Homo sapiens: one gene and its partner. The protein of the gene in region 1 purifies or fractionates together with the protein of each later gene. This does not show direct contact. Each region holds a gene or a part of one and is shown in the gene's direction. Other genes may lie near its edges.

The links.
Region 2: the proteins of PXK (region 1) and WASHC5 purify together in Homo sapiens (affinity purification with mass spectrometry; one large-scale study listed by BioGRID and IntAct). This does not show direct contact.

The regions. Positions count from the first base shown.
Region 1 is NC_000003.12:58,330,510-58,336,372, forward strand, and holds the start of PXK (PX domain-containing protein kinase-like protein), read left to right. Parts: upstream 1-2,382; 5' UTR 2,383-2,479; coding exon 2,480-2,581; intron 2,582-2,796; exon of another isoform or gene 2,797-3,040; coding exon of another isoform or gene 3,041-3,082; intron 3,083-5,863. UniProt on the Homo sapiens protein: Binds to and modulates brain Na,K-ATPase subunits ATP1B1 and ATP1B3 and may thereby participate in the regulation of electrical excitability and synaptic transmission. May not display kinase activity.
Region 2 is NC_000008.11:125,078,293-125,082,584, reverse strand, and holds part of WASHC5 (WASH complex subunit 5), read left to right. Parts: intron 1-117; coding exon 118-202; intron 203-823; coding exon 824-924; intron 925-3,654; coding exon 3,655-3,847; intron 3,848-4,292. UniProt on the Homo sapiens protein: Acts as a component of the WASH core complex that functions as a nucleation-promoting factor (NPF) at the surface of endosomes, where it recruits and activates the Arp2/3 complex to induce actin polymerization, playing a key role in the fission of tubules that serve as transport intermediates during endosome sorting.

The DNA.
Region 1 (5,863 bases):
AGGTCTATTACATAGTAGGTACTTAGCAAATAATTGTTGAATGAATGTACGAATGCCCTCCAGAAAGGTGGCGCCAATTTATACTCCCACCTGCAGTAAGAGAAAAGAGCCTTGTCTTGGTCAGTCCACATCACAATAGGAGTAATGATTATAGCTGGATTTTGGTTTCTGTGACTCTGGCAGAGAAATAATCTATTTGCCTTAAAACAAAGAAATGAAAGTAAAAAGTTGAATCCTCCCTAAATGACATATGGTTTTGCTTTAATAGACTGCTGCTTTTAAACACACTGGCACAAAAGTGGAATGGAGGGAGAGTTCTGATTATTTTAGGGCTGAATCATGAAGGTCCAGGATTCCTTCTTCACATCTCGCTCTATTAGATCTTGGCCCCTGGGACCAATCTCATGGCTACTTGACTCAACGGGGCTGCCCACCAATCCCAATAAGCTTGAGATCTGGAGAAGGGACCCTTTATGTATGATGTGGGCCTTTCCTGTGATGTCAAATTTTGGTGGTGGTGGTGGGATTACCAAGGAACTTTGTTCCCTTATCTGAAGTGTAGAAATTTAGTGGAGGCAAATTTAAGAGTTAGGAACCTTCCATTCTGTCAACTGTAGGGGAAGGAGGAAACTAATATTGACTTTGTTTTGTTTTTTTTTTGTTTTTCCGGAGACGGTCTTGCTCTGTTACCCAGGCTGGAGTGAAGTGGCATGATCATGGCTCACTGCGGCTTCAACCTCCTGTGCTCAAAAAACTCTCCCACCTCAGCCTCCTGAGTAGTTGGGACCACAGGTGTGAGCCATCATGCCCAGGTATTTTTAAAATTTTTTTGTAGAGACGGGGTCTCACCATATTGCCCAGGCTAAACTCCTGGACTCAAGCCATCCACTCTCCTCAGCCTCCCAAAGTGCTGGAATTACAAAGGTGAGCCATCATGCCTGACCACGGTTTGAGGTGTTTTTGTTTGTCTGTTTTTTTGTTTGTTTTTTGAGACAGAGTCTCACTCTGTCACCCAGGCTGGAGTGTAGTGGTATGATCTTGGCTCACTGCAACCTCCCCCTCCCGGGTTCAAGCAATTCTCCTGCCTCAGCCTCCAGAGTAGCTGGGTCTACAGGCACGTGCCACCATGCCCAGCTAATTTTTATATTTTTAGTAGAGGGGGTTTTGCCATGTTGGCCAGGCTGGTCTCAAATTCCTGACCTCAGGTGATCCACCCACCTTGGCTTCCCAAAGTGCTGGGATTACAAGCGTGAGCGATCATGCCTGACCACCGTTTGAGTTTTTACTATGTGCCAAGCCCCTTCCCAGTCTACTGCATTCCTTGTATTAACCTTTTCATACAAATAATATTATCTCCACTTTGCAAATTGGGGAGTTGGGACTCAGAGAGGTTGGGTAACTTATTGAAGATCACACAGCTGGTAAATGCCAGAGCCATGGAGATGATGGTCCTCCAATTCTAAATTTAACTCTTCACTATCCTGGAATGCTGCCCTAGGAGAGGGCAGTGTGGGTGAAATTTCTAGGTGTATATGGAGATGGGGGGGATGAGGTGGTGCCAGGATTATGGCTTTGGGTTCAGGCAGACTGTGGGCAGATTTAGGGCTGAGAAGTTGATCCCAAGGTTCTCTGGCTTGGCTCTTGGTTTGAAGTTCTTCTAGTCCATATGGTGGGATCAAAAACTCCCAAGTCTAAGGGATGTGGTTGAGCCCGCAGTGGGGGCCAAGAGTAGAGGCTAGGGGTCTCTGGACCATTTTATAGGGTCTCCAGTTCTTAGAGCTTGGGTCTGAGGGTTCTGGGGCCCAAGACCTCCAATTATGGGGTCCAGCTCTTAGGTGTTCAGGCCTGAGGAGCCACGTTCAAGAGTCCCTGTGAAGTTTCAATAGGAAGGGCTTGTTTCAGAAAGTCTCTGGGTTTGCAGGGCTCAGACTGGGGGTCCCATCCTAAAGGCCCTTTTTCTGAGTTTTAGGGTCCTTGGGCCTGGGGGATGAGAGAGATCCAGTTCTGAGGGTTTCAAGAGGTACGGTCCCCGAAAAGCCCAGTTCTGAGAGGCCTGGTTTGGAAATCTCGCCCTGAAGATTCCTGGATCCCAGGGCTCAGGACCAGGCGTCTCTGGATCTGAGGATCCTGGTAGTGATGGCTTAGGGTGGTGTTCCCTGGTCCGAAGCCCGGAGCTAAGGGCACCGGGTCTGCGGTGCGGCTGCGAGGAGCAGGGAAGCGCAGGCCCATGGCAGCCGCGAGGCGGAGGAGCGGGCCAGCGGGCGGCAGTGCTGGCGGCCCCCACACGTTCTGCGCTGGGTCGGCGCTAGGACTCCGGGGCGGCGGCCGTGGGAAGGGCGGCGCTAGGACCCCGCGGGCCCGGCGGCGCGTGGGGCGGCGCGTGTTGACAGCGGCGGCGGTGGAACCGGGCGGGCGGCGGGAGTCGGCGCCTCGGGTTCCTACCTCGCGTCCCTAGGCGGCGGCGGCCGGGCGTCCCGGGATGGCCTTCATGGAGAAGCCGCCAGCCGGCAAGGTGCTGCTGGACGACACGGTGCCGCTGACAGCAGCCATCGAGGCGAGCCAGAGCCTGCAGTCCCACACGGTGCGCGGCCCAGCGGGCGGGCGGGCGGCGTGGGGCGGCCCCGGGCCGCGAGGGGGCTGCGGGCTGCCTGGCGCGGGCCGGGCAGGGTCGTCGGACGGAGACCGGGCCACAGGGTGGGCGGCCCTGGCCGAGAAGGCTGTGGCGCGCCGCTGGGTCTGGGTCAGGGCCCCTGGGGCCCAGGCGAACGCTGAGGCCCGGAGGGGCCAAGGATGGGGACCGCAGCTCCCGGCGCCGCGGGGTGGAAGGAGCTCGGCGGCGACCAGGAAAGCGACTCCGAGTTGGGGGGCGGGGGCGGGGGCTGCGGGATTCCCGGGCTCACCTTGGACTAGGGGAGCAGGAACGAGACCGCTCAGGACCATCCACTTCTGCCCGCCGCCAGCCTTTTCCTTTTTGAGGCCGTGTAATTTCCTCCTTGCAGCTGAGGGTCTGGGTGATGGGGATGAGGGTGTGCCGGGCCAAATGAAGTGTGACTCCAGAGCCTACTTGTTGGGACAGCAGAGTGTAAGTGGCTGGGGTCTGCAGCCCCGTTTCCAGGTCAGCCGCTTGGCCCTGGTCCCGGGAAGTGGTGGGGGCGGCAGTCGGGGCGCTGTTAAGCAGGTGTATGAATGTGCTTCTCTAACTTGCTCTTTAGTGGGCAGTGGTAGCATTCATTTGAGTTTAAAATCCACTCGAGTAGCATAAAGGAGTAATAGGTCCTCATAGTAAACATTGGCAGGGTTCATTTCTGCTACATATACGGTCTTTTATGGGGCTTTAAAACCGTGGTTGTTTTCATTTGCTTGTACCTTTTTTTTTTTTTGAAAGGCCCACTATGCATTATAATTTCCAAGCAATAAATCTAGGAACCAGCAAGAAACCTGGAGCTATCAGCTAGTGGGACTTTTTTGGAAAAGTAATGAGTGAGGAGAGAGATTCCTTCAATTGTGATGTTTTGTCAGTCCACCGAATCAGATTCAGACTCAGAGGCTTGTTTGTTTACCATTGCAGTGTGTTTGGGGGGTCATCATCTGGAGGCTAAAGCTCACAATAGCCTTCTGTTTCTCTTTTCGTTCAAGCTCTTCTGATGACTTCAAAGAGACCTTTTATTCTGTTGTATTAAAGTGAGACTTTTTTGAACCTCAGTTTCCTCTTCTGACAGCCGTGCTTTGTAGGGCTTGAATTGTTCAAAGCATTCACTTCCAGTTAAGAAAATTATTATCTTTTTAAAAAGGGCTATTTATTTCACGCTGTGTGTCTTTAATCCTATTCTGTAGACATGTGAGAAGGCACATACAGGACAGAATTTGTTAAACTTGCTATCATTTGTGCCTAAAGGGAGTATGGCATAAGGGTTGAAATTTAGGATAGGGAGTCAAGAGTAATTCAGCTATTAAATTTGATTTTTGACTTGACTATTGGCAAGTAAGTCTTATAACCTTTCAGGGAATAGTGTCGAGTCCTTTAGGTTTATTTTGTATTGAAAATAAAGAGATAGATGTTTCTAAATACTCACAAATTACTTTCCCTAGGAAGCATTCATGATTTCTACAGCCCCAGCCCATGTGCCTACCCACACCTTAATCTTGATTAGTTTGTCCTGTAATTACTTCTTTACTTTTTGTCTCCACCAGGCTACAAGAGGAGGGGCACTTCTTCCTCACTTTTGAGTCTCATTCCCTGGTTTTTGATAGGATTTCAAATGTGTTTATCAAATGACTAAATAATCCAACTTCAACCTTACTATGCCTCTTTTTCTGTTTATGTAAAATGGTAATTGTAAACATTGAAAAAATAACTTAGAGATCAGTGCTTTAGCTAGGTGGCGAAAGATGTAATAGGATTCTGTTTTTATTGTAAGGGTGTGTGTGTGTGTGTGTGTGTGTGTGTGTCTGTGTGTGTGTGTGTGTGTGTGTGTGTAGAGACAGCGTCTCACCATGTTGTCCAGGCTGGTGTGTGTGTGTGTGTGTGTGTGTGTGTGTGTGTGTGTGTGGAGACAGCGTCTCACCATGTTGTCCAGGCTGGTCTGGAACGCCTGGGCTCAGGCCGTTCTCCTGCCTCAGCCCCACAAAGTGCTGGTATACAGATGTGAGCCACCACACCTGGCCCTGCAGATCTTTTCTTTAAAAAATAAAATAATTTAGGGTAGAAAATGGCAGTTCTTGTAGGGATGACTGACCACAAAAGACAGTGACTCACAGGAGACCCATAGAGGCAGATGTGGTAGAGTAAAAAACTGTAGCATTGTCTTGCGTAATTTTTTGACTGTTCTGTGTTCTTGTCATTTTAGCTGTAAAGTTTGACTGAGAAATGTTGCATCAGCCCTGAAGTTTATTGAGAAAATCTTACGCTGATGCAAACTTTTTGGACTGTTAGTGTCTTATGAGTAAGTCTTTTTTAAAACAGGAACTGTTGGAAATTATTTTGGAAAGAAGTAGTTGTTAAGAGGGGTATGTAGAAGAGAAAGGCACTGTTTTTTCTTGGGGAGATTGAAGTTGGCTTTCCAGCTTGGTAGCTGAAGGGAGATGGTGTTCCAGAAGTCAGAGCTCTACTCTCGCTTTGAAATGCTGAATCTCTAGGAAGTTACTCCTTGGCTGTAGACAGAAACATACGGAGTTAGAGACAGACTTGGGGTTGGAAGAGGCAAGACCTTAATACAGGTCTGAGCTGATACTTGCTAGTCATGTGATATAGGCTGGGCAAGTCACTTAAACCTTTTTGAAGTTTAGTTTTGTCATCTGTAAATGGGAGTAATAAATGCCTGCCCTGCCTGCCTCCCAAGGTTGTTAGGAAGATCAAATGAAATCATCTTGATGAAGTATTTGTAAAATGTATTCCTTCCTCCCTCCATCTCTTCACTCCCTGACAACATTTGTGCAAAGCGTTAAACACATTAGAGGGCGTTATTGCAAGCAAGCTCATTTCTGTCCATAGTTCCTTTCATTTATCAAGTTTGTTTAACCTTGGGAAACATATATATATATATATATATATATATATATATATTTTTTTTTTTTTTTTTTAATACCAATGGGGTTCTTGCTGTGTTGCCCAGGCTGGTCTTGAACTCCTGACCTCAAGTGATCCTCCCACCTCAGCCTCCCAAAGTGCTGGGATTATAGGTGTGAACCACTGCACCCAGCTGGGAAACCACCTATAACAGAAATGATTTAGGATTTGTGAACTTGGTAGGGAAAAATTCTGTGGTTTGGAAAACTGAGTCACCAGAAGGATGAAGGGAACACAAGGTCACCACCAGAAAGGCATATTTGGATGAGCAACTGGCAGAAAGGACATGTGTTGGTA
Region 2 (4,292 bases), on another chromosome or scaffold:
CTAGTGGAAGGCCAGAATGCCTGGCATCCTGCCTTATCTTTTAAAAATCTTTCCTTCTTTAAAGATGTTAAAGTTTCTATTATAAATTAATAACTTGCACTGTGGTTTTATTTCTAGATATCTAGATGATCTCAATGAAGGGGTTTATATTCAGCAAACCTTAGAAACTGTGCTTCTCAATGAAGATGGAAAACAACTTCTAGTAAGTAATAATGATTATTTAAAATGAAATTCAAGAATATCAAACATAGTATCACTTTTTTTTCTTTTAAGTCACAAATATATACGAAATACCATTCTTTAAAGAGAAGCGAAATGAGCTTTTAATTATCTTCTAACTGGCAGGTCCATATCTGAGTTTAGAACATAGACTTTGAACAGAATTTAAAACAGTTAAAAGTTATGTGGAAGTTATGAGCCTCCTCGGTGTAAGAATTCTGTCTTCTTTACTTTTTGCATCCCAGCCATCTGTCCTGATACCTAGTACATACTAACCATTTAAGAAATGCTGATTGAATAAGTGAATGATTTTATGATGAAGAGGTATACACAATATTGGGTTGCTATTTTGGTGTCCCAAGCAACATAGCCAAAATAGGTCAACTGAAAAATTATCACTATGAATTAAAATCTGTTTTACATAAACTTTTCAAGGCCCATTCGGCAAGAAGGTAAGAGCTCCTTGGAGGAAACCTACCTTTTCCTTGAAATCTAAAACTTTTTGAAGAAGTGTGAGCAAAGCAATATTTTTCATGATTACCGACTTTACTCCCTAAGAATGTATAATCTAGTGATTTTGGCTTTTGTCCTCTTCTCTTCTTAGTGTGAAGCACTGTACTTATATGGAGTTATGCTACTGGTCATTGACCAAAAGATTGAAGGAGAAGTCAGAGAGAGGATGCTGGTTTCTTACTACCGATACAGGTATTCCTGGGCTAGGACTACACTTCCGAAACGCTGCTGTCGGTAAAATGCAGTGTATGTCCCCATATTCCTTATACTGTGAACAGCAGTAATCCAAGAATAGATAAGAAAGTATACGATTCAGCCGGGCACAGTGGCTAACGCCTGTAATCCCAACACTTTTGGGAGGCCAAGGCAGGCAGATCATCTGAGGTCAGGAGTTTGATACCAGCCTGGCCAACATGGTGAAACCCTGTCTCTACTAAAACTACAAAAATTAGCCAGGCACGGTGGTGGGCGCCTGTAATTCCAGGTACTCAGGAGGCTGAGGCAGGAGAATCGCCTGAACTCGGGAGGCGAAGGTTGCAGTGAGCGAAGATCATGCCACTACACTCCATCCTGGGTGACAGAGCGAGACTATGTCTCAAAAAAAAAAAAAAAAAAAGTAAGATTCTTATGTCTTGTGAGCATATTGTAGGTATATAACAATTACATATTTCATAATGATTATAAATTATATAATCTATGTATTACATATCAAGTATTCTATATATTATAGATTATTAGAAGTATGGATTATGCTGTCCCTAATGATAACTCCAATTTTAAAAAGGAGTCTGAATTGTGAACTTTCTTTACCTTGAGGCTAAATTTCAAAGAATCTTAGAAATCTAATGAAGATTATTTTTGCTTTTGTTGTTTAAGTTTTCAAATATTACTCCTTGGCAGATATAAGGAAATAAGTGTGCTTTCTGTTGTCATTTCAGTTTGATGACTTTGAAAAGTTGTCATTCAGAGTCAGGTTGAAAGTGAATTCTCTCCCATGTTTACATAGAAACAAAAACAAATCAAGCAACAGCACATATCCACAAATCATTTGTTGTGTTTATCTATACAGAACTGTGATTCTTCAGGAAGTAAGGTCTTGAAAACAGGAGCCACCTTAACCAACTTTTTAATTTTAGTGTCTAACGCACAGATTTTCAATTGGTTGAATGAGCTAAAAATGGAATACCAGGTCAATGTCGGAGATAGTCAAGATTCAGAGAAGAAACTGTCAAGAAGGAGGAGTCAGGAGCTTGAGCTAAAGATGTAAAGAGTAGAATTAACATTTTCAAACTTAAAAATTAGGACAAAGTAGACAAGGAGAAGGGGGTTCTTTGGGGACATTATACTTTTCGGCAATACCAGGTACTACTGTGTCCTCAGCAGCAAATTAGTCTTAGGCTCCTCAACTAGCCTTTTCCTTTCAGCTGAAGGGAGTGTTCTAGCAGTGTTCATTCATGTCAGTTTGACCAAGCTGTTTTAACATCCATGTTTTTAAAAATGAGATTTGAATGGCCTTTCCTATATTTCTGAGAGTACCTGGAAAAACAAAAACTATACACAGTGTAAAGAAGAAGAAAAAAATATTGGCTTATGAAGCCCAGTTTTGAAAATATGGCTTTGTCCCCTTTGGTACAACAGCTAATTCATTAGAATGTGAGCATTTATTATTGAAGTGACACTGAACACTTCCAAGTCACAGTCGTGGCAAAAGAGATCCTTACAGCAAATAGCAGGTCATATCCAAGTCTAAGATTCTTTGAATCTAGTTCATTTCTTTCAGAGCTTACTATTCCACCCGGAAAAATCACAGACCTGTTTATTAGATCTCTGTAGAAGGAACAGCTTGCCAAGAAAAAAGTTAGATATATTTTACTTTAAATTGACATAATATTTTTAAATTATTTTTTAATTTGTAAAATGTCAGGTTCACATTCTTTACCCACAATTTTCAAATCCAAAGAGCTCTGAAAAAATATATATACACGAGTATACACACAACACACATGTACATATACATAGTAATTCATTTGGCAGCAAAACCTGATGTAAGCTGAAATCATTTGGAGTCAAAACTTGCCTGGAATAGGTGTGAGGCTATATATAGTCTTCACTTATCTCACTTTTGTAAATATTTATAAATTTTCCTCCAGAATTATTCACTTATGTTGATCATGAGATGCCAATTCAGACCCTGCTGGAGTGTTGTATTGTGTATGATCTATATGCCATATGACTCTTACTATTTGAAAAATGCTATATTCCGAAACAAATCCACTCCTAAGGATTTTGGAAAAGGGATTATGGACCTTTACATAGTATGAATACCCATCTTCTAAACAGGCTTTCAAAAATATAATTTTGAGGCCGGGCACAGTGGCTCACACCTGTAATCCCAGCACTTTGGGAGGACAAGGTGGGTGGATCAGTTGAGGTCAGACATTTAAGACCAGCCTGGGCCAGCATGGTGAAACCCCATCTCTACTAAAATACAAAAATTAGCCAGGCACGGTGGCAAATGCCTGTAGTCCCAGTTACTCAGGAGGCTGAGGCAGGAGAATTGCTTGAACCTGGAGGCAGAGGTTGCAGTGAGCTGAGATCACGCCACTGCACTCCAGCCTGGGTGACAGAGCAAGACACCATCTCAAAAAAAAAAAAAAAAAAAAAAAAGGTTATATATACATACATAGCGAGACTCCATCTCAAAAAAAAATGTATATATATATATATATATATATACACACACACACACATATATATACACATAATTTTGAATCTTGAGGATATATTGAGGATATAGATGGACCTGTGATCATATCTGAAACTATATTGAGTCAAAGTAGAATGGAATTCTACTTTATTGGACTTTTCAGTTTCTAATATGTGTGTTTTGGGTCTTTGTTTCCCATTGTGAATATGACTCAGTGCTGCTCGATCTTCTGCTGATTCAAATATGGACGATATTTGTAAGCTGCTTCGAAGTACAGGTTATTCTAGCCAACCAGGTGCCAAAAGACCATCCAACTATCCCGAGAGCTATTTCCAGAGAGTGCCTATCAACGAATCCTTCATCAGTATGGTCATTGGTCGACTGAGATCTGATGATATTTACAACCAGGTGGGAATTAAATCTATTAAGACCTATTAAGACAGTTTAACAGACTGATTTCACTTCCCTCTTTAATTACTCCTTTCCTTCCTTCTTTCCCAAAAGAGTAAAAGCAGGTAGAACCTTTTAAAACCTTTTGAGCTACACCCCAGGATGATAAAGGAAAGAGGGTTATTAATTTTGCCAGAATCATATATTTCAGGGAGAAGATGGAATTTGAGCTATTGGGAAGAAGATGCATTCTTTTAGTCATTCATTCAAGAAATGGTTGTTGAGTATGTGATACGTGCCCATTCACATGCGCAATGCTGGGGACCCATCACCGAAGAAGACAGGCCATGTCCCTGCCCCTACTGAGCTTGTAGCTTAGGAAAGGCAGATGACAGGATTATAGTAAAGCAAGATGGGTGTTATCTTAGGGTAAGCACAGGGTGCCACTGGAGCATGCAGCAGT